3 linked regions of the Homo sapiens genome follow. The protein of the gene in region 3 interacts with the protein of the main gene of each other region in a pairwise test. Each region holds a gene or a part of one and is shown on either strand. Other genes may lie near its edges.

What was found.
Region 1: the proteins of PKNOX2 (region 3) and CTTNBP2NL interact in binary tests that used the Homo sapiens proteins (3 or more experiments, as listed by UniProt).
Region 2: the proteins of PKNOX2 (region 3) and FAM110B interact in binary tests that used the Homo sapiens proteins (3 or more experiments, as listed by UniProt).

The regions. Positions count from the first base shown.
Region 1 is NC_000001.11:112,399,214-112,406,320, reverse strand, and holds part of CTTNBP2NL (CTTNBP2 N-terminal-like protein), read right to left. Parts: intron 1-7,107. UniProt on the Homo sapiens protein: Regulates lamellipodial actin dynamics in a CTTN-dependent manner. Associates with core striatin-interacting phosphatase and kinase (STRIPAK) complex to form CTTNBP2NL-STRIPAK complexes.
Region 2 is NC_000008.11:57,989,552-57,997,559, reverse strand, and holds the start of FAM110B (protein FAM110B), read right to left. Parts: upstream 3,038-8,008; 5' UTR 2,754-3,037; intron 1-2,753. UniProt on the Homo sapiens protein: May be involved in tumor progression.
Region 3 is NC_000011.10:125,167,718-125,174,824, reverse strand, and holds part of PKNOX2 (homeobox protein PKNOX2), read right to left. Parts: intron 1-7,107.

The sequences.
Region 1 (7,107 bases), on a different chromosome or scaffold from region 3:
ACGATTCACAAAGCTGGAAGGAGCCTCAGCAATAATCTAATTCAGCACTCTCATTCTACAGATGAGTACTGAGGCCAGAGTTGTTAATGTGAATACAGTTAAATAGAACTAGGTCTAGCACACGTTTTTTTTTTTTTGAGACGGAGTCTCACTTTGTCACCCAGGCTGGAGTGCAATGGCGCGATCTCGGCTCACTGCAACCTCCGCCTCCCAGGTTCAAGCAATTCTCCTGCCTCAGCCTCCTAAGTAGCTGGGATTACAGGTGCCCACCACCACGCCCAGCTAATTTTTCTATTTTTAGTAGAGACAGGGTTTCACCATGTTGGTCAGGCTGGTCTCGAACCCCTGACCTCGTGATCCACCTGCCTCGGCCTCCCAAAGTGCTGGGATTACAGGCGTGAGCCACTGCGCCCGGCCGCATACATGTCTTTTTAAGATCCAGTTTAATTCGCTTTCTGGGACAACATAATAGGTATCAGGTTTTTGTTTTGTTTAGTTCTAAGACTCATGCAACTCTGCTATATCTCTCTGTGAGTGTGAATGTGTGAATGTGTAAGTGTGTGTGTGTACACATCTCTTTCTCTGTCTCTCATATATGATGTCAGCAAGATTTATATGTATATTGAAGAAAAGAAGGAAGTAGCCTTATGCCCATAAACAAACATTCAGATATCTCTTCCCTCAAATGAGAACATTAGTGCAAAGCTATTAAAAACAGGTCTGGGCTGGGTGCAGCGGCTCACGCATGTAATCCCAGCACTTTGGAATGCCGAGGCAGGCAGATCACCTGAGATAAAGAGTTCAAGACCAGCCTGGCCAACATGGTGAAACCCCATCTCTACTAAAAATACAAAAATTAGCCGGGCATGGTGGCGCACACCTGTGATCCCAGCTTCTCAGGTGGCTGAGGAAAGAGAATCGCTTGAACCCAGGAGGTGGAGGTTGCAGTGAGCTGAGATTGCACCACTGCACTACAGCCTGGGAGACAGAGCAAGACTCTATCTCAAAACAAGAACAAAAGGTCTGTCTACCTGGATATCTGTTTACACCATCTCAGGTATTCTCATCTGAGACAAGGCCAAACTAGAACTACATTAGTTAAGCTACTGGAATGGATGTTAATGAAAATGAATAACAACTTTTATATTAATAAATTTTTTATCATTGAACATTTTAAAAAAGATATGTCTTTTAACATCAGAATATTATTACCAGGAAACTGAAACATTACATTTTTTTTGTTTGTTTTTTTTGAGATGGAGTTTTGCTCTTGTTGCCCAGCCTGGAGTGCAATGGCGCAACCTCGGCTCACCGCAACCTCGGCCTCACCGCAACCTCCGCCTCCTGGTTCAAGAGATTCCCCTGCCTCAGACTCCCAAGTAGCTGGGATTACAGGCTTGTGCCACCATGCCTGGCTAATTTTGTATTTTTAGTAGAGACGGGGTTCCTCCATTTTGGTCAAGCTGGTCTGGCACTCCTGACCTCAAGTGACCCGCCCACCTCGGCCTCCCAAAGTGCTGGAATTACAGGCGTGAGCCACTGCACCCGGCTGAATCATTTCTATATAATTTGTTAGATGGCTTTATTTCATTTAAATGAAATTGTAACATGATTTCAATCAAATATGTATCTGACCGTCTCTATTGTCTATCTGTCCATCAGTCCCCTAAATTTTTGCTTTTCTGAAATAATGCCACCATAACTTGTAAAATACCACAAGGGAACAATAACATGTAGATTGATTATTTTCAGTAAGATGATTCATGGGCCACAATTCTAGAGGCAGCCTGGAATGCAAACCCTTCAAATGCTAATGTAGGATGATGACGTCATTGATTCCACTAAGATTCCACACTGGGGAGAAACTCCAGAGTATGGTATGAAGGATTAACCATCAAACAGTTAAGGAATCTGTGTTTTAGCGATGCCCATAACCTGACTTTATCTGAACTGCAAAAAAAACTTCAAATAATCCTCTAGCAGAAATAAAACTCGTGATGTTGTTTTGTCTTCTAAGACAGATAACTGACTTAAAAAAAATTTAACAATTGAGTATCAGTTGAATATTTCCAACAACAAGCCTGGCAATTGTTGTTCTATGGTTCTTCAGGGACAGTAATTCTGCTGGGAGACAGTATGTTATAGTGGAAAGCACATGGATTTTGGAATCTGACAGAGCTGAGTTTGCATCCTGGCTCTGCCACTTGCTCTTTCATCCATTTAACCTTTGAACTTCAGTTTTTTAGCTATAAAATGGACATAACAATACATACTGTAACAGGAGGCTGCATGGTTTAAATGAGTTAGTGACTGGTCAGCTTCTCATTTCTCATCCTTAAAGAGCATACTTTTTGGTTTCATCTGCAAGGATAATGAAGTTTTCCTTTTCCAATGGGTCATCATTGTCTATCATTCACGTGTCTAATTTACAAACCAAAACAAGTTTACTTCTGACTTCTGGCAGGTTGATCTGCACCAAAAAGAAAGAGATGGCCTGGCCAGTTCCTGGGAAAGTCAGTTTAGAGACATGTTCAAGCCAATTGTATCTGCACAATACTTGGGAAAAGAAAAGGCCAGCCTTCTGCTTAGATTAGTTTTTTGTGCCTTTAGCATACAGGTAAACGCATACCTTTGCTTCCACTGAATTTTAACAGGTTTTAATCAAGTCACAACTTTAACTTGTGATGACTGAGAAATGGGTTTCCTGAAAATATCACAGCTATTTTTTTACATTAAATTAAATGCATAATGGATATGTATCTACATTCGTAATTCAAGAGCAGTTATCACATTCTATTACATCAATTCATCTGTTTACATATCTGTCTTCTGTCTCACAAGACTCTGAACTCATCTGAACAACTACTCTGTCTATTCAACTTGATCACACTTAGCACTAGCAGTGTCTGGTTCAGATACTGAAAAAATGCTGGTTGGAAAGAAATGTACAGCACTTTCAATCTCAGCCAACACAACTGGACTTTACCTTTTAGAAAATGGGAAGCCACTCAACATTTTTAACCTGGTGAAAATCATAACAAAAGCATAGTTTTAGGAAAGTTAATGCTTACAGTACAGGGCTGACTTGACTGAAGAGAAAATGGAAACAGAAAGAGTAGTCGGGAAAAAAATTTAACAGCATAGGTATGAGGCAAAAATGTATGAACTAGGATGGTAGCAATAAGAATGGAAGAGACTGACAAAAGAGACATTAAAAAGAATTTACTTAGTTATTTAAGAATTTACTTACAGTAAATGACGGATTTTCATTTAGGGAGGTAAGAGGGGAAATAATCCCAGATCAGCTGAGGTTTTGAGACTGGGTGACTAGAATGATGATACCATTAGCAAAAACAGGGATGTTAGAAATGGAACTGGGTTTACTGGGGAAATGATGACTGTGATACGAGACAGGCTGAATGAGAAGTTATTTGACCCCCAAGAGGAACGTGTTAAGAGTCTGTTAGTGTGGTGATGGCTAAGGGTTTAGAAGTGAAGAAGTCTTTGGGGATAGAGCCTTTTAAGGAAATTTATTCTGTGCCCTCAATTTAAGGACAAGAGGCAACAAGATGAAACTGATATATAGGGCTAGACCAGATCATTGTTATACCCTCAAACATTAAGTCAGTTAAGAACTAGATTGGTTCTGTTGTTACTTCTGTAGCACCTGCTGTAACAGAAAGGACTATTTAGCAGAAACCAAGTAATGAGGGCCTCCCTGGAGCCCCCATTCTCCAACAAAAAACCCAGTTTGTGCTTCTTTCTTTTTCCTATAACTTACCTGTCAGTTATCTTTCATCCTTCTCTCCATTATAACTTACAATTCTTATCTCGTGTTAAAACAATTTATCCCTGCTTCTACTTTCTGTTCTCCTTCCCTGGCTCTCACTTTTCTTTTTTTTGAGATGGAGTTTCACTGTTGTTGCCCAGCCTGGAGTGCAATGGCGCGATCTTGGCTCACCACAATCTCCGCCTTCTGGGTTCAAACGATTCTCCTGTCTTGGCCTCCCGAGTAGCTGGGATTACAGGCATGTGCTAACATGCCTGGCTAATTTTGTATTTTTAGTAGAGACGGGGTTTCTCCATGTTGGTCAGGCTGGTCTTGAACTCCCAGCCTCAGGTGATCCACCTGCCTCAGCCTCCCAAAGTGCTGGGATTACAGGCGTGAGTCACCATGCCTGGCCTGGCTCTCACCTTTCTATGGTGAGTAGACCCAGAGCACACTTCAGCTTCAGCCTAGCCTTTCCCAGCAGTTTTGCACAAAGAATCTACGCAGATGCTCCCGAAGCTCACGGTCAGGAGTCTTTGTCTGTAGACCCACCCCATCATCCTGTGCTTTCCTATTTTCCTTTCTTGTTTCTATTAAACTCAGTAACAATTAAGGGTTGCATTCTTTAAATTCAGTAACAATTGAGAACTATATTCTTTGTGGCTCCAGAAGTCAGAAAGGATTCATTAAACAGCAAATGACACATTTAGATTGGAAGTTCTGGCTCTGTACCTGAAATGCAGAGTTTGGAAATAACTGGCAAAGATGAGCCATATTACAGCGCATTGCATTATCTAGTTCAATGCCTCTTTGTAGTCTTGTTTTCTTCAACCCACAAACTCCCGCCTTTCATGTTCCCCCACCTCTACTCAACTCCCCTATCCATGTTTTCTTCTCACTCCAGTTTTGGTTGTTCCTATCATCGCTCCTTACTTTGAGGACAGTGGGGGAGGCTGTCTTCAAAAGTAAGGTAAAAACCACTTTTAATCAAAATTACCATTAAAAGTCCCTTAAATTTCACAGAAGGTATAACTCTGCACGGTAATCACAGTATCTACAAAACCATTTATATGACATTCAGGATGATGCTACTTAAAGATAGTAGAGCTTAGAGTGGAGCAACTGACAATTCAGAAAGAAGACATCGGCTAGCTGAATCCCTTGCCTTTCTTTTTTCCTTGGACCAAAAAACTCAAGAAAGATAATCTGCATGACAAAATTATTAAATACACACACTCCAAGACAGATACACACTCTCCTAAAAATCTTTGGCTCAGATGCTTGAGATCATGACATATGCAAACAAGCTTTGTTTCCCTCTATTCAGGACTTAGTCATATGTTGAAAAATTTAAAACAAAACCAATCAATAACTAAAATCCAACACTAAGTCTTCACCTTTGCTAAAATGCTGAAGGGGTAAAATAATGTTGAATATTAAATTCTTTAACTCACATGCCAAGTGCTAATAATAATACCTGTCAATTACTAAGTGCTTCTTATATCCTGGGTACCTTGCTTTGTGATATGTGCACGTGTATGTGTGTATATTCATGTAATCCTTTTTTTTTTTTTTTTTTTTTTTTGGTGACAGAGTCTTGCTGTGTCACCCAGGCTGGAGTGCAGTGACACAATCTTAGCTCACTACAACCTCCACCTCCTGGGTTCAAGCAAATTCTCATGCCTCAGCTTCCTGAGTAGCTGGGACTACAGGCACGTGCCACCATGCCTGGTTAATTTTTGTATTTTTTTTTTTCTTTGAGACAGAGTTTCGCTCTTGTTGCCCAGGCTGGAGTGCAATGGCACGATCTTGGCTCACTGCAACCTCCGTCTCCCGGGTTAAAGCCATTCTCCTGCCTCAGCCTCCGGAGTAGCTGGGATTACAGGCATGTGCCACCACACCCTGTTAATTTTGTATTTTTAGTAGAGATGGGGTTTCTCCATGTTGGTCAGGCTGGTCTCAAACTCCTGACCTTAGGTGATCCGCCTGCCTTGGCCTCCCAAAGTGCTGGGATTACAGGTGAGCCACTGCACCTGGCAATTTTTGTATTTTTAGTAGAGACAGAGTTTTGCCATGTTGGCCAGGCTGGTCTCGAGCTCCTGGCCTCAAGCGATCCACCCGCTTCGGCCTCCAAAAGTGCTGTGATTACAGGTGTGAGCCTCCGCACCTGGCCTATTCGTGTAATCCTTAAAGAAACCTCTCCAAGTTATTTCTATCTCACAGCTGAGGAAACAGACTGAGCTACGGTGAAGACAGAAAATTTTTCTCTTGCCCTGGATCACACAGTGAACAGTAGCACAGTTGGGATTTGAACCTAGGTTTGCCTTTAAAGTCTGTGTTGTAAATAATTACATTCTCCAGGCTCATGATAAGTAAGCCATTTTCTCACTAAAAGGCTTTAAATTGAACTTTGGAAGATTTAAATTTTAGTTATTAGCAGCAAATATTCAGAAACTTTAATTTTGTTAATTTTTTATTTTTTGAGATGAAGTTTCTCTCTTCTTGCCCAGGCTGGAGTGCAATGGCGTGATCTCGGCTCACTGCAACCTCCGCCTCCTGGGTTTAAGCCATTCTCCTGCCTCAGGCTCCCGAGTAGCTGGGATTACAGGTGACCATCACCATGCCTGGCTAGTTTTTGTATTTTTAGTAGAGAAGGGGTTTCACCATGTTGGCCAGGCTGGTCTCAAACTCCTGATCTCAGGTGATCTGCCTGCCTCAATGTCCCAACGTGCTGGGATTACAGGTGTGAGCCACCATGCTCGGCCAAATATTCAGAAATTTTAAAATGGCCTTTAGAAAACATGCTAATAAGCCACTCCTGGGGCCAACCAGCATAGACTGAACAAATTTCCTCTAGAAGCATATCTCTGCTTCCTGCTTCATGACGTCAAACACCAGTTAGATGGAAACCCCCAAGAAACACCATTCTGCTCCACTCAGAAAAACCAAGAATTCAAATCCTACGCTGCAAATCAACTGGTAGCACTGCAAATGTGATTCTGCCAAGATACAAATCCAGAGAAGACTGATTGTATTATGCCCACCACAATCAATAATCAGCCTGTATAATTACACTTAGGGACCCAAGGCTGTTCTGTGCTCCGTTCCTATTTTTAGTGTTACTTTAAAAACACAAAATCAACTAAAAATCCATTTTAAAAGTCCCAAAGTAGATCAATAACTTGTCAAAACCAAACACTCAGAAACTATTCTTTTTTTTTTTTTTTTTTTTTGAGACAGAGTCTCGCTTTGTTTCCCAGGCCGGGGCGCAGTGGTGCAATCTCAGCTCACTGCAAACTCTGCCTCCTGGGTTCAAGCAATTCTGCTGCCTCAGCCTC
Region 2 (8,008 bases), on a different chromosome or scaffold from region 3:
GCAAGTAGGTTTCTGATCATTTGTTTCTCTCTCCTAAAAAGTTAAGTATGAAAAAAAGTTCAGATTAGTTGGAGATCTCTAGGCTCAGCTGATCAATCTGACTCTACAATGGGAAAATAAAATAAAGTGAACAGTTTCATAATAATATTTTTACAAGCAATGTTTGTCTAGCACCTAAAATGCGATGGCTTTCAGACAGAAAAATGGCCAATAGTCTACAAATGTTGAACATATAAAGTACAAATTTAAAAACAAACTGTATTCCCAAAAAGATTGTTGGACAGTGTCTGGTTGGTAAGAGTATGTTTTGGGGGGCAGCAAACAATGGGATTGCTAAATTAATCCCTGGGATTCTACTAGACCATACATATGCCTCCTCCACCAGCCTTGTCCACAGCACCATCTACTGCCAAGCCACTGTGCCTACAGCAGTTTTGCTTCTGCAGGGCCCTAAGAGTTAATACCATGCCTTCGCTTAGCTAAGTTATTTAGGAATCACGATTTTTTAAAAAGTCACTTCAAAGTTAAAGGGGAAAGGAGAACATGAAATAAGAGTAAACTCCTGACAATCATTTAAAATATCTAAATAGGAAACACAATCTTTGGTTACTAACACATGGCAAATAAGTAGTTTTAAATAAGTGAGTTTTCTTATCTTAGCTAGTTAGGCTATAAATCCTGCTCTAAAATATTTTAAAGCATGAAAAAGAATTAAATGCTCTGGTTGTTGTATATACAGTAGACATATTTATCTTTTATCATCTTTTAACACTGTGAGAGTTACTTAACTCTGCTGTACCAACGGTTCTTTCCATTGGGAATTGGAAGTGGGATTCTAAACCTAGAGAACAAGGGAGTGCAGGGGAGGTAAGGAATGGGGTTCAGAGCCCAGGTCTTCCCTAATGTGGAGGCCTCTCTTTAAACAATTAGGCTCTTAAAGACAACCAGGTCTCCTTATGAAAGGCACCAGGGCATGACTGGGTTCAAGACTGATGTCTTGCCCTTAGAGATCCAATATATAAGATGAATTAAATCAACCCTCACCATGCATAAGGATACGCAGAGAAGCCTGTCAGTCATAGGCATAATAACAACCCAACCTCAGCCCTGATCTAAAATTAAAACCACAGACTTAAAATAGATCATGACCTAACAGATCAGAATTTTAAAAATCAAAACGACCATTTTCCAAACAGAAAATAACACATAGCTTGATAAGAAAAATTAAAAGTAATATTAGCTGACACCTAGAACTATATGCAAGGCACTGTTCTAAGCACTTTATGTCAGGCTAACAAGGCACCAACCACCTCTCTGTTCAATTAGTGACTTTACATGTACAATCTATAGTAATACTACAGATTAAATACCGTAGGGTAAACCAATGGGATGTTATCAGTGAAGGATTCTAGTTTACCATTAACTCACCTTTATTCTAGAATAACTATGCTTAATAAATAGCTTACCTGAATGACCAGGGGTTGTGATGTCACAAAAATGAGTACAAGAAATTAATACAAGTATCTTCCCAGAAATCACTACGTGTAAACTGGGGGGAAAATAATAAATACCTTCTTCACCAACAAAGGAAACGAAGAAAATGGAAGTCCTACTATCCATACTGCAAAAATGCTTATTCTACTATCATATTCCCTTTTGAGAAATAGACCAGTTACGCCAGAAGTGCAATGTTGTCACAGATGTGTGCCAGATTTTGCAGAGGACATAAGTTGGCTGTGAGGAAGAACACAGAGGTTGCCTATTTTTTAGGCAGGAAAGAAAGCCTGCACTTTTCTGTGTGTGTGTGTCAATAAATCTGAATAACAACTTGAAAGGGTTAAAAAGCTGAGCACCAGGTGTTTTCTTTCCACTTTCCAGAGTAATTTAAGCACACTGCAAAGTTATCTCCCTTCCTTCCCCACGAGCCAGCTTAAGGGAGACCTGTCACTGCCATTTACACTGTACAGCTCCAGCTCTAAACAATAGGAGGGCACCAGGCTGGGCAGCAGGCATCGCGGCTTCCCACAGCCTGTATGGGCTTTGTTGCCAAGTTATGAGCTCCGCTGGGTGATGGAGACACGAGTGAGCCAAGGAGAATTTAATTCTATTTCAAATCTGTATGCTTTCAAAGAAAATAGAGACAATTGAGGCCACGGGAGGAGCTGGAGGGGGTAACCAAAAACAAACTTTCGGAACCTCAGAATCTACATTTCTAGCAGTAATTCTCAGCAAAGGATTAGGTGGTATTGATACTCTCATAAAGTATTTAACACCGAGATTAGAGACCATTCAGGAGCGGTGGCCGAGCGGAGTCCCCATCCTTCGTAGTCCCACTCCTCCAGCAGCAACCGGCGGCGCGCTTTCGGAGCCCACCTCCGCTCCGCAGCGCGGCCAGCTTCCCCCCGCCCTGGCTCCAACCCCGGCTCCAGCCCCGGCCCCGTGCCCAGCCTCCTAGCCGAGCCCGGGACGTGCAGCCAAGCCGAGCGCAGAGGGGGCGCGGGGCAGGCAGCGGCGCTGCGCCTCCCCCGGCAGCCCAGAAAGCCGGACGGGGTCCGCCTGGGCCAGTGAGGCCGGGCTCAACGGAGACCCGGGCCGGGCGGGGAAGCTGCAGGCGCAGAGCCGGCTTAGCTCCGCGCCGCCTGGCCGCGCGCAGCTCCCGCATTGTCCGCAGTCGGGGCGCGGCGCGACCACTGAACCCGAATCCCAACCCCCGCCCAGCAGTCTCTCTCCCGGCCCCCACGGCCCAGTCTTACCTGGGCCGCTCACCCCAGTCCCTGGCGGTGCGGCCCGAGCCGGGAGCCAGGCTCCGGGGGACTGCAAGGAGGGAGAGTCGGGGCCCGCGAGGGACGAAGGGCCGAGAGCGGGCTGTAGGGGCCGCCGAGTGTTCACGGTCGCCGCCGCGGGGCCGCGGGTAGAGAGCAGACGGGGCTGGCGGAACGGGCCCAGGACGCGCGGCCGCGAAGGGCCCGGCTGGCGGCGGCCGCGATGGTTCGGTCTGCACCGAGTGGGAGGGCTCAGGCAGGCTTCGCCGGAGAGTGAGGGAGGGAACTTGGAGCCAGTTGCTGTGGCCGAGAGCGCGTGTCCCTGAGCCAGTGTACACGCCCCTCGTACACCCCGCCCCGCCTCCATCCCGCCCCCACCCCACCTTCCGGGTCCCCACCCTTCTCGCACCTCCACTCCAAGCCCTGCCTCTCTCTCAACATCTCCACCCCGCTACTGATGCCCATCCCACCCCATCCCTGACCCACCCCCCATTCCACTCGGTCGGCGCCTCCATTTCCTCCCTATCCCCCACTCCCACCTATGTCCGCACGCAAGCACCCCCACCCTGCTCCCACCCGGTGATACCGCTGGATCTCGGACTGCCACCCCAGTGCAGATCGCTCAGCACTGGAGACGTAGAGCCTGTGCCCTGAATGAGATAACCCCACCTGGTAGTCCAGCCATCCAAACGTCTTGGTGCTTGACATTTTCTGTTTACTAACTTTCATATACTCAGATGGAGCGTCCTAGCTTAATTTCTGAAGGCATTTTTAAGACTTCAAAAAAATGTTTGGAGAAAATAGTAAATAACGAAAAATATCAAGCATGATGTACTACCTCTGAAATGTGGGCCAGCTGATGTTTTAAAATGAAATGCTTTGGGGTGCGTCATTATTAATCGCCTAATATAGTATTTGAGAATACTTTCTGCTTAGATTTGCTTAATAACTTGGTTGTTTCAGGAGAGGATTTGTTTTAGGAAGACTAAACACATTGTAATTTAATTTTGCTATTGGGAAGTCTAAAAGATAAAATCCATCTTTATCAAAATGAATTTGAATGGGATATGGACTCACAAAATAATTGTTTCTTCTAGAAAATATTGAGCAAGGATTTCTTTTTAATCTCTGGTACATTAACAATACGATTTCACTCATCTCATTTTCTCAGAAAGATCGTTTATATTTGAATTGTGCTTCAATTCAATGAATCTATTGTTTCATAATAGTTAAGAAGTTGCCAACTAAATAAAACTCAGACTTTATAATAATATATTTTTTTTCTATTTAAAGATTACCATTTTAAGAAAGTGACATGATACTGGGATTTAAATGGAACTTTCCTTTGGCATACTAATACATTCCTTGTTATCACAGATTACGTTGTGGTCTCCATTAACTCCAAAAGTCATATAACAATAGAAATAAACTATTTTTCATCATTCCCATAGCAAATGGAACCAACTTCTCTCCCTCTCAAGTATACTTTTTTTCCCCACTTCTTTGCCCCAATCCCTTCCTTTTAGGAATTTCCCCCTCCCATTGGGTGTGACTAGCCCACAGAGCTTCCTGACATTGTGAGGGATATGACCCAGGCCAGCCAATTAGAATATCGTCTGAGAACAAAGGAGGAGGGTCCTTTCCCTGACTGACAGGGCAGCTCCTGGGACCATATCATATATGCGTGCAGCAGCTGGAGTCAACTTACTGGAGAATAAAACAAAACCAGAAAAAAAGCCAAACTGAGCAATGGAGACAGAAAAGTGCCCTGATGACATCAATGGCCATCCGAAGACAGTCACCTCTAAAACCAGTCAAATCCTGAACTTCTGAAGTAATGCACCAATAAATTGTCTTTCTTGCTTATGCCATTTTGAGTTAAGTTTCTTTCCAGAAGACTCACTTATAAAATCATAAAAGATTCCCCTATGATCGATGCTTTGAAAATCAGGAATGTAACCAATGAGTTTTAGCTTTCTTTCTTTTTTTTTTTTTTTTTTTTTTTGATGACAGAGTCTCACTCTGTCACCCAGGCTGGAGTGCAGTGGCATGATCTCCACTCACTGCAACCTCCACCTCCTGGGTTCAGCAATTCTCCTGCCTCAGCCTCCCGAGTAGCTAAGATTATAGGCACGGGCCACCACGCCCAGCTAATTTTTGTATTTTTAGTAGAGACGGGATTTTGCCATGTTGGCCAGGCTAGCCTGGAACTCGTGACCTCAGGTGATCCACCTGCCTCAGGCGCCCAAAGTTCTGGGATTACAGACGTGAGCCACTGCGCCGACCAAGTTTTAGCTTTTCTATTGCCTAAACTACTTCTTGATAATAAAGTATATGCCAAGGAGTTCACTTAGTAGGACCCCTAACTCTTATTATTAAGGTTCTCATTTAGGGTTTTACTATTGCCCAGTGTAGATTTAATAGCCCCAAATTGTCATCACCAAAACCAAAAACCAATAAAAGATGTGGTTAAAGAGACAGAGAGAACACAGTAAAACATCTATGCTGGAATATTTCAGTAAATATTGTCTTATCAATTATGCCAATAAAACTGCTCTCATAATCCCTAATGTTTGCTGATTTAGGACATAGTTTTCTTGTTTTGGGGACTGAAAATGTTAAGGACTGCTACAGATTTTCAGAGAATGTTGAAATTAGTTGTTTGTACTAGAATTTTATTGTGTTGTTTATTCTTCAGAAGTGGGCCATTATCCTAGGCTTGGAATTCTTTTGTTTCACAGAGGTTTCTGTCTCTAAAAGTATGTAACAATATTTGACTAGTACCCAAACAAGCATCCATACACGAATCAGAATGTAATTTAACCATTATTCACAGGTGACTCTGGACAGTGGGACTATTCCTAGCAAGCAGGGAGCCTAGGGACATGCAGTTATTAGCTCTAATCCTCTGACTGCCAAAATGGTTTCTTACGGGAAAATGTGAGCTTGAAAAGACATGAGCTCAGAGTTTTCACTAGTCTTTCTCCAGATGGGTACGTACCTAAGTTGTGTCAACAACTAGGGAAACTTTAAATGTATAAAAGCCCGTAAGCTGAATAATAACATATTATAAACAGATGCAAGCCTCACAAAAGGAGAGCATCTCTGAAAACAAAACAACCAAAGCAGCTTCAGAGGAAAAGTAAAAAAATAAAGAGTTCTGGAATCCAGTCCCCGCTCCAAGTGGCACTTGTTCTAATGATTGGCTATGCCAGGGAAAATGTCAGTCAAATATCCAGAGTACCCCCAGCATGCCTGTATTGGATCAGTGGGATGCTTGTACCCATTTTCTTGCCTAAGAGTGGTACAGCAGTCCCTCAATTAACCCAGGGTCAGTCAGACCACCCTGTCTGTCCAGAGCTCCCCCTGAAATCCTGGCATACATCAGCGGTTTTCAGACCACGAAACACAATCACCTGCAGTACTCCCAACTAATGCCAGGTCTCTAGGTTGAGGGAGAACGGATAGGCCTGTGTTGTTTTTTTTTTAAAAGATCTGCCCAAGAGATTGTAGCGATCTGGCAGGGCTAAGGTAAACAAAGTCTGTGAATCTGTGCTCTTAATTCCACAGAAAAAGACTTGAGAACCCCTCAGCCCTCAGATCAGACTCCATTGTCTTAGAATTGTATGTAAAATTAAAGTTATTGATTGAACAAGCTCAATTTGTCTTTTCCCCTTAACAACCATAGTTCTTCTGAGGAAATAGAAAAAAGCAGCGAGGAATGCACCTTAGGAGGAGCTGGAGGATTTGCTAGAAGCAATCACACTGAAAAAAGGCAGCTCACAGCAAGGCTGAGATAAGAGAGTCACTAAATAGAAAAGCATTGTCAGTTGCTGGACTAAGAGGCCACTCCACTCCATCCTGGGCAACAGCCCCTGGGGGTTCCCTCATGTTGCTTGTTTCTCAGCGTAGTGCATGTTCAGGCTGGCGACCAGAAGATCAAAACGATCGAATTATGTTCTTGAATGCTGACCTCCATCATTTAATACTAATAACTACCATTTATTGAAACTTTGTGCTAGCAGTTTATATGTTTCATTTTCATTTTCAGTGGTCACAACGGCCCTAAATGTACATAATATTGATTACCATTTTATGAACAAGAAGTTCATGCCCAGGAAAGAGACAAATCCAAGATCACAGAGTTAGTGATTAGAGGACTTAAAGCCTGGCCCATGTGATCCCAAAGCCTACATATCTTTACTATAAGCCAAGCTTGCCAATGAATCTCACATATTACCTATACAATAAGAGAGCAGTAGTCACATGAGGCTATTGAAATTTAAATGAATTAAAATTTTGTGGAATTTACATTCATTACATTAAGTTAATTAATTAATTAATTCCTTTTTTTTTTTTTTTTTTTGAGAGGGAGTTTCGCTCCTGTCGCCCAGGCTGGAGTGCAATGATCTCAGCTCACTGCAACCTCAGACTTCAGGGTTCAAGAGATTCTCCTGCCTCACCTTCCCAAGTAGCTGGGATTACAGGCACGTGTCACCACGCCTGGCAAAGTTTTTTTTTACTTTTAGTAGAGACGAGGTTTCACCATGTTGGCCAGGCTGGTCTCGAACTAGGCGATCCACCTGCCTTGGCCTCCCAAACTGCTGGGATTGCAGGAGTGAGCCACCACATCCAGCCTCATGACATTTAGTTTAAATTCATTGAATTAAAAACTTTATTTTGTAAATGAGAATAAATTGCAAGTTTCTCAGCTACACTGGCTACTTTTCAAGTGCTCTGTAGCCACAGGCAGCTGATGGCTGCCCTGTTGGACTGCGCAGATAAATGCTTCCATCATTGCAGAAAGTTCTATTCGATGACTCGGATGCTGCTCAGATTTATCAGTATCATCATCAATTAAGGCAGTGTTCTTCATGAGTGAGTTTTCCAAGTAAATTACCCCAACCCTTTTATGTTAACTGTTTTGATGAAATTCTTTCTAAAACGGGTAATATGTTTCTGTGCCAGCCTTAATCAGCAGGTTGTACTGAACTGAGTGCCTCTGTGAGGCATGCAGGGTCAGGAGACCACCTGCAAGGCACCGGAATGCCATGCTGGGGAGCTGTGCTTCTCTTCTTCCTGTGTCATCTCAGTTCTCACCTTTAGTCTTTGCTTCTGCAGAGTACCTACTTGCCATTGGCCAAAGTATGGTGTTTGCTAACGCTCTGCCTTTAGCCTACTTCTGTCTGTCCATTTCCTCTCCCTATTGGTTTTTTGATTTTCCAATTCTATGTTTTCAACTACTA
Region 3 (7,107 bases):
CACCGCTATTTGGGCCACAGGGGAGCAGCGGTCTTGAGTTCCCACTCTGCCAGGCTCTCCTGCCTGATTTCTGTCCCCCTGACCCTCCTGGAAGCTGGGGGACTCTGCAGGGTCCCTCTCAACAAGCACTCTCCCGGCCCCTGCAGACAAATAAATGAGGCCAGCTACCTCTGCAATATATCTTCCCACCCACTCACCTGCCTACAGGTAGACAGCCTTCCCACTGCTGGGCTAGGTGTTCTCTGGTGTCCTATCACCTTCTACAAACTCATGGTGCCTGATGGACCTCGCATGTACAGCCCAGACAGTCGTAGGAGAATAGACTTGAAAGGGGCTTGAAGAGAGCCAAGGATAACCTGCTCATTGTATAAAATGAGGATTCTGAAATCCAGAGAAGTTAAGAGATGAGTCAAGGTCATATAGCTTGTTCTCAATTTCACATGCGTTTTGTTTGGTCTCCTCATCAAAAATATGTAGCTCCTAGAGGATGAGGCCACTGAGTGTTCCCCACAGCATGCTAATGGGCACTAATTAAATAGTGGGTTCAGGCCACACCTGTTGACAGGTGGATTCTTAGGGAGGAAATGAGAATGAGAACAAGCACCTGTCGCCCCTGGGCCCGGGGCATACACTTGACTCTCTGGGCGTCTGTCTCCCTGCCCTGGACCTGGAGATAGAACTGACAATCTCCACAGAGGAAGGTCTCCTGGGAGGAAGGCAGGACAGCTCCTCAGAAGGAGGGGTCACATCACATTTAGACCTAGCACAGGACTTGGTACAGAGGAGCATCCATTCCTTAACAATGCACTGTGGACTGAGGACCGTGAGGGGAAGCTCTGGGGTAGGGCTCACTTGCCACTACTCCAGCACAGACCCATTGTGCTACGCTGGAACCCAGAGAGCCTGTGCCCTCCCCTTACCTAATAGGAATTAGACAGATGCTACCACTAACGGGCTAAACTCCCCTTGGTGTTTGTCGGCTTGACATCTGTCTGGATTGTGAGCTGATGACCACGGGCACGAGCCCCCGAGGGAATTCTTTCCACCCAGGGGTCCAGCTTACACCTGGGCTGGCAGACCAAGGCCACACTGCAGCCTCGCTGCCCCCACTCATAGCCATGAGATATCCCCTGCTCCTAAATCTACCTCTGCCTCTTAGTGCGGGCCCTCCCAGCCCCACCTGAGACTGAAGACTTTGTGGAAGTAAAAAACAGATCTTCTAGACTTTGGTTTTCACAACAGTAGCTCTTCCCAGCATTTGCCAAAGATTCGAGTAATGGAGGAGATGAGTTTAGCTGGTTCTTTTATGAAAGATCTTGGGAGAGGACTAGGTAGAGCTCAGGAATGGCTTGTGTTGTCTCCAGAAGGCTAAAGGAAGAACCATCATCATAGAAGATAAGCCTGGGCTACCCTAAATAATGTGCTCCATTGCTACACACAGACACACCTGCACCCACTTCCTGGACCTGCCACTTTAGCCACTCTCTGAGCCCCAGTTTCTCTTACCTATAAAATGATACAATGCCCATTTTACCTGCTTCACAAGGCTAAGAGGATCACACAAGGGCATGTGAGAATGAGCTTTATTAGGACAGAAGACTAATATTTATTCAACATGAGCTTGCCATGTGCCAACCACTTACAGATGTTTTCTTCCAGAGTTTTCACAGCAGTCTTAAATATGCTTGGTAGTATTATTATCCTCACCTATAAAGCCAAGAAAACGGAGGCTCAGAGGGGTTAAGTGATGTGCACACTGCTTAGCTGTAGTAGAACCAGGGTCAGAACCCAGAATCTGACTCCAAAGCCTGTGTTCCTTCCCCTAGCCCCACGCTGTCTCAACAAGAAAAGTAAATGCTGCTTTTTATGAAGAAGCCAGTGAGTTTTCAGACTGAAATTGCTGCCTCATGGAGCCATCCCCTATCGCTAGGAACATCCATTTGTCCCAGGCAGGCCATCAGAAGGGTCAGAACCAACCCCTAGGCCCCCACTGTCCTTAAGACTCTATACCACAGGGGCCAAGCCCCTGCAGTCTGTTGAATGTCATCATGATTCTTTGCTCGGATTTGTGGCGGTGGCGGTGGTTTTAATGATTGCCTAGCCACAAAGCCACGAAGCAATCCAATTGGGAGGAAATATGGAATCATGGAACTTTGAGTAGAAGGGGACCTCTGAGAGCAAGTTCAAGCTCCTCATTGGATAAGTGAGGACACTGACATCCAGAGAAGGTAAGTCCCTTGTTGAAGGTCACACAGTCAGTCAGTGGCTGAGTCCACAGTGGAATCCACCATGCTCAGACTACCAGTCCCCCCTTTCTCTCCACCATCCCGATCACCCTGATATCAATCAGCTTCATGGTTCCTGAGATGGAAGAGGGCTGGATGTGGGCCTATAGTCTCTGCTCTCTCTGCTTAGGGAAAAAGGGGATCTTAGGTAAGAAAGCCATGTTGCAACCAGGAGTGAAGTGATTTGTTTGCCTCATGCACCAACTCATTGGTCTAAGTTCTACCCATTGAGAAGCCAACGTGGAAAGGTCTGCTCGGAAATCCCTCAGTGTGTAAGGGAAACTGGACCCAAACAACAAGGCCTTACCTGGTGCTCCTGGGGCAGGGACAGCCCACTTCTGGCCACCTGGGATAGGTAGAGGGGGCTAAGCTCCTCCTTCTAGTCCAGGCTGCTCCCTTGCAGTCCCCAGGACAGCGCAGAGCACCATGACCTAGGAGGCTCATGTTTCATGCCCCCACTGGCCAGCCGCTCAGCCAGTCCTCCTCTAACACTCTGCAGAGGCTCCCTTCCTCCCAGAAGTCTGCCCTGTGACTCCACTCTGTCCTGGTCACTCCACATCCTGCCCCACTGTTGTCTCCTGTGGTTAACACCTGGTTGGTGGCTTTTTCCACGTCACCTCTCTGTCCATCATCTCTCAGGTCTGTGTATTGTATGTGCCCTCTCTACTGTTAACCCCAGACACCCCTCATCCCCAAAGTGTCCTCAGGGTCTGTGTACCTGTTTTCTACTGCAGCCTCTGCCAGGGCTGTGCACAGCAGGCAGCACCAGGCCACAGCATTGACTGGCTATTTGTGCAACGCTGGTTGAAGACGCCAGTGACCTGGAAAAGGGCCCAAGCCAGGTTCTGGGGAAGCAAAAGGAAAGGGAAAGGGGTAATCCTCCAACTGGATCATCAGCTCCAACATAACATGACAGAGGAGAGTCAACCATGACTGAGCCTCTCCTCTGTGCCAGACACCGTGCTAGGGACTTAACAGATGCCCCTCAACAGTCCTGTGAGCTATGTGCTTTTACTTCCCAATTTACAAATGGGGTAACTGGATCGAAGATGTTAAGCAACTTGTCTAGATCCATATGACAGGTAAAGAGCAGGGCTAGGCTCTAAATGAAGTTTTGCCTGATGCTAAATAAAGCCCATACTCAACACCGCCCCCACCACAAGCAAGCTCCTTGAGGACAGGCTTCATGGCAATGTCTTGGCTTTGTTTTTGCTGCTGTCTCCTCAATGCCTAGGACTGTGCCGGGGACACAGAAGATGCTCTATAAATATTTGCTGAATGGAAGAACAAAGGGAATGGGTGAATGCCATGCTGCCCCTCCCCAGCAAGGCAGGACACCTGCCCATGATGCCCGATTACTGGGTTCTATTTCCAAGAATCCTCAACAACTATTTGTTCCCTCTCTACTAGATTTGGGATGGCGATGTGAGTAGAGATGTAAATTGAACACAAAAGACTACGTCCTAATGAGGTGGAGGATTTACAAGCCTCAGTGCCCTGTGACCTGCTGCTTCTGTGGCCGCTTTCTGGCCCATCTGGATCTGGCTCCTCCTCCACCCCAGCCTCCCCCCTCCCCCACTGGGCACCCCCACTGCCTTGACTGAGCCGTACTCAAATTGGCCACGTTCCTACTAAGCAGAAAACTAACAGTTACCCCACCCACCCCGGCCCTATCCGAACTCTCCAGAGTCTGCTCTGGGCCCCAGGGCCAGCTGCTTTTCTCCACATTCCAGCCAAAAATAATACAAGAACGAAGCTGTTTGGTGGAGACTTAATCTAATCTTCATTGCTTCAGTTTTAAAATATCCTGCCTGGTTTAGGGTTTCTTATTACACACAGGGATGTGTTTTTAGTGAGATAGGTCTTAGCAGAAACGTCCTTCTTGTAATTAGAAACCCAGGCAGGCCGGGCCTGCAGTGAGGCATCCAAGCCAAACAGCAGATCCCCTTGAAGACAACGCATTTGCAGCAAGCTCTTCTCAAGCTCTGCTTGACCGCGTGAGATGAACTGAGCTGTCCCGGGCTTGCTTCTCCCTCTCTCCTGGGGGTTCTGGACGGGAGGAAAACCTGGAGTTCAGGTAGAAAGACTGTGCCCTCCAACTGTTGCTCTCTCAACCCCCAGCCCTGTCTCCCACCCCCAATCAAAATGGAGACTAAGATGTTGCCTGTGATTGGCTGAGAAGGAAATGAGGAGGAAAAATTACCCCAAGGAATCCCCAAAGACTAGGGAGTATTAAAGACAAGCATTCCACCAGAGCCGCGTCTCCAGGATCAGAGCTAGCTTTTACAAATCAGACACCGGAACAGAAGGAGTCTACGAGCGCACACACAGTTTTGTGTAAGTGCCGGGTGTAACTTCTTGGGCTTTCTGGCCCAGAATCTGCTTTGATCTGCCAGCAGAGACTGCTAAGAGAGGTTCAGGCCGTGGCTAGCTGCAGACCAGCACCCAACCCCCTCAGCCGACCAGATGTCACACACACACCAGTCAGGGCTCAGGCCTTGCCTTCCCAGTGGAATAAAGAGAAGGGGCTGCATTTCTGATAAGTCAGATTCTGCATTCGTCTGATACAGGACAGCTATTCCAGGTAACACCATTTGGAAGAAGCGGGCTGGATCCCCCAACTCAGCCAAAATTGCCCCTCTTGGTAAAGTGTAGATGGTTTTTGGAGTCACAGCAGGCCTTTCAAATTCTAGGATGTAATGCAAGGCAGGAATTCAGCCCCTTTACTATAGCCTAAGAACTCCTGAGAGTTGTGGGGAAGGCCCTGGAGCCAGGCGAGGAAAGAAAACACACCGAAGAATGTGACTTTGCTGCTGAGAAGCCTCTATCTCCCATTTTTTTTACTCAGAGCGCAGCCTGTGCTTGATCCAAGCCCATCATCTCACCCTAGTGAGAACTGTGTGTGATACATTCCACTTTACAGATGAAGAAACCAAGGCCCAGAAGCTAGATGACCCACTGGAGTCATGCAGCCCTGGCAATAACAGAGTCAAAAGAGACCAGGCCACTAAATTTCAGCCTAAACACTAGCTCAGCATGCTGACCTGCCAACCTTGATTATCTGCCCACCACTTCCCTCCCTCCTTCCTCCCTTTCCCACCAGGTATTAGATTTAATTAAATTAGCAGATCCCCATCGCAACAATCCTGGCCATGCTGCCTGGATAGAACCCAGCCCGTGGAGCTCCTCCCTCTAAATTCTGCTTCTCAGTATAATTCAGTCTTCAATAAGTCACGGATCTCACGTGAAGTGTTTTATACAAAGCATGGTGTGTTGGCTAGACTCAGGCTAACGGTGGTTCATGATGATTTCATTTTCCATTAGAACTTCCTCAGTTTTTCCTCTGCAGCATCGTTTTCACCCTCTCCATGCTCGGATCTGCGTTTTGTTTGATCCAGACACTTGGCTTCACATGCCGTCACCTCCAGCAATTGCATCACACGTTTATATATATCTTACAGCATCGCAGTCCTTGTGCCACACAGCGTAGGAAAAAGGAAAACTCATAACAGCCTTTCTCACCCTCCTCGAACTAATTTAGAAAATGTGCTCCAGATTAAATAAATCGGGAACAAAAGCCTGAGATTAGAGATAGAATTTCAGAAAGTAGGGAGGGGGAAGCTAAATAAATAGCAAGGAAATCTTGCAACATGTTGGAAGCCTATAAATTTTATTGGTTGTTTCTTTAATAAAAACAAATTCAATTGCTAACAACGCAGTATTATTAAGCCTCTAACATTTAAACATCTAATTTTCCCCTGCTCTGCTGCTGTTTACGTTGCACGTTGGATTCACGGAAGGTAAAGAAGTCAGGTCAATTGGTTTGGTTTGATTCCTAAACCAAGCTAATAGAGACCCCTTTAAAATCCAGCCGTTTTGCTTTCTAGGCATGCCTTGGTCTCTAATGAGTTACAGCCCAGGTTGAAGATGGACATGGCAGAAAGAAATTTAACACACACTCTGGTGCACCCATAAACTTCAAGGCCAAGGGAGAGGAGGTATGTTTCCAGTTAAGCTAGAACTCCATGAATTCAGGATTCTCCACTCACAAGACAGTAATTCTACTTATTTCATCACTAACTTACTTCAAATGTGTTTATACAATTTATTGCTACTGAACTTCCAGGCAACTGGTGTAGAGTTAATGAAACCCAGCTTGGAGAAGCTTTGAGCTTTGAACAACTAACCACAGTTTAAATGGTTATGACATGCGGTCAAAGCCACAGCCTGAGCCCACTGCAGTTTCTGTGTTAGGACCTAGTCAAAAACCTTGTCATCTCACCTTTTGTGCCAAACAGATTGAAAAAGCAAAAAGCACTGAAAAACAGCCTGCCTTGTTCCTTCTCAAGGTTCCCAGGCATTTAAACACATTTATCTTACTAAACGCGAGGCAAAGCCCCTCCCCCAGTCCCAAGTAAATATTTTAGTTGCAGTTTGAATTGGCAGCTGGGCTGAAATCCTGAAATCCAGTTTGGGTTTAACTGAACAGGGGTCAGGCCTACCTAAAGCAATGCTGGGAGAGGCTGCTGGGGAGGCACCAAGCAACATTTAAAGGCAGACTCAGTGAAAGCCCAAAGGCAACACGAGAATGAACAGATGAAACCGGACTGGAAAAGAAGCAAACTCGTCTTTCAGAATCACTTGGACATTAACTTTTATTAATTCTCATTGTCACATGGCACCCTCCCCCAAGCTCTGCCATGTGGGATCCAGCAAGCTCCCTCTTTTTAAACAGGCCCATTTTGGAAGAGTAAAGGGGAGGTACTGGATTTGCCACTGCCACACAATAAAAGCCCCTTTTGAAAGCAGCACTTTCATTAAC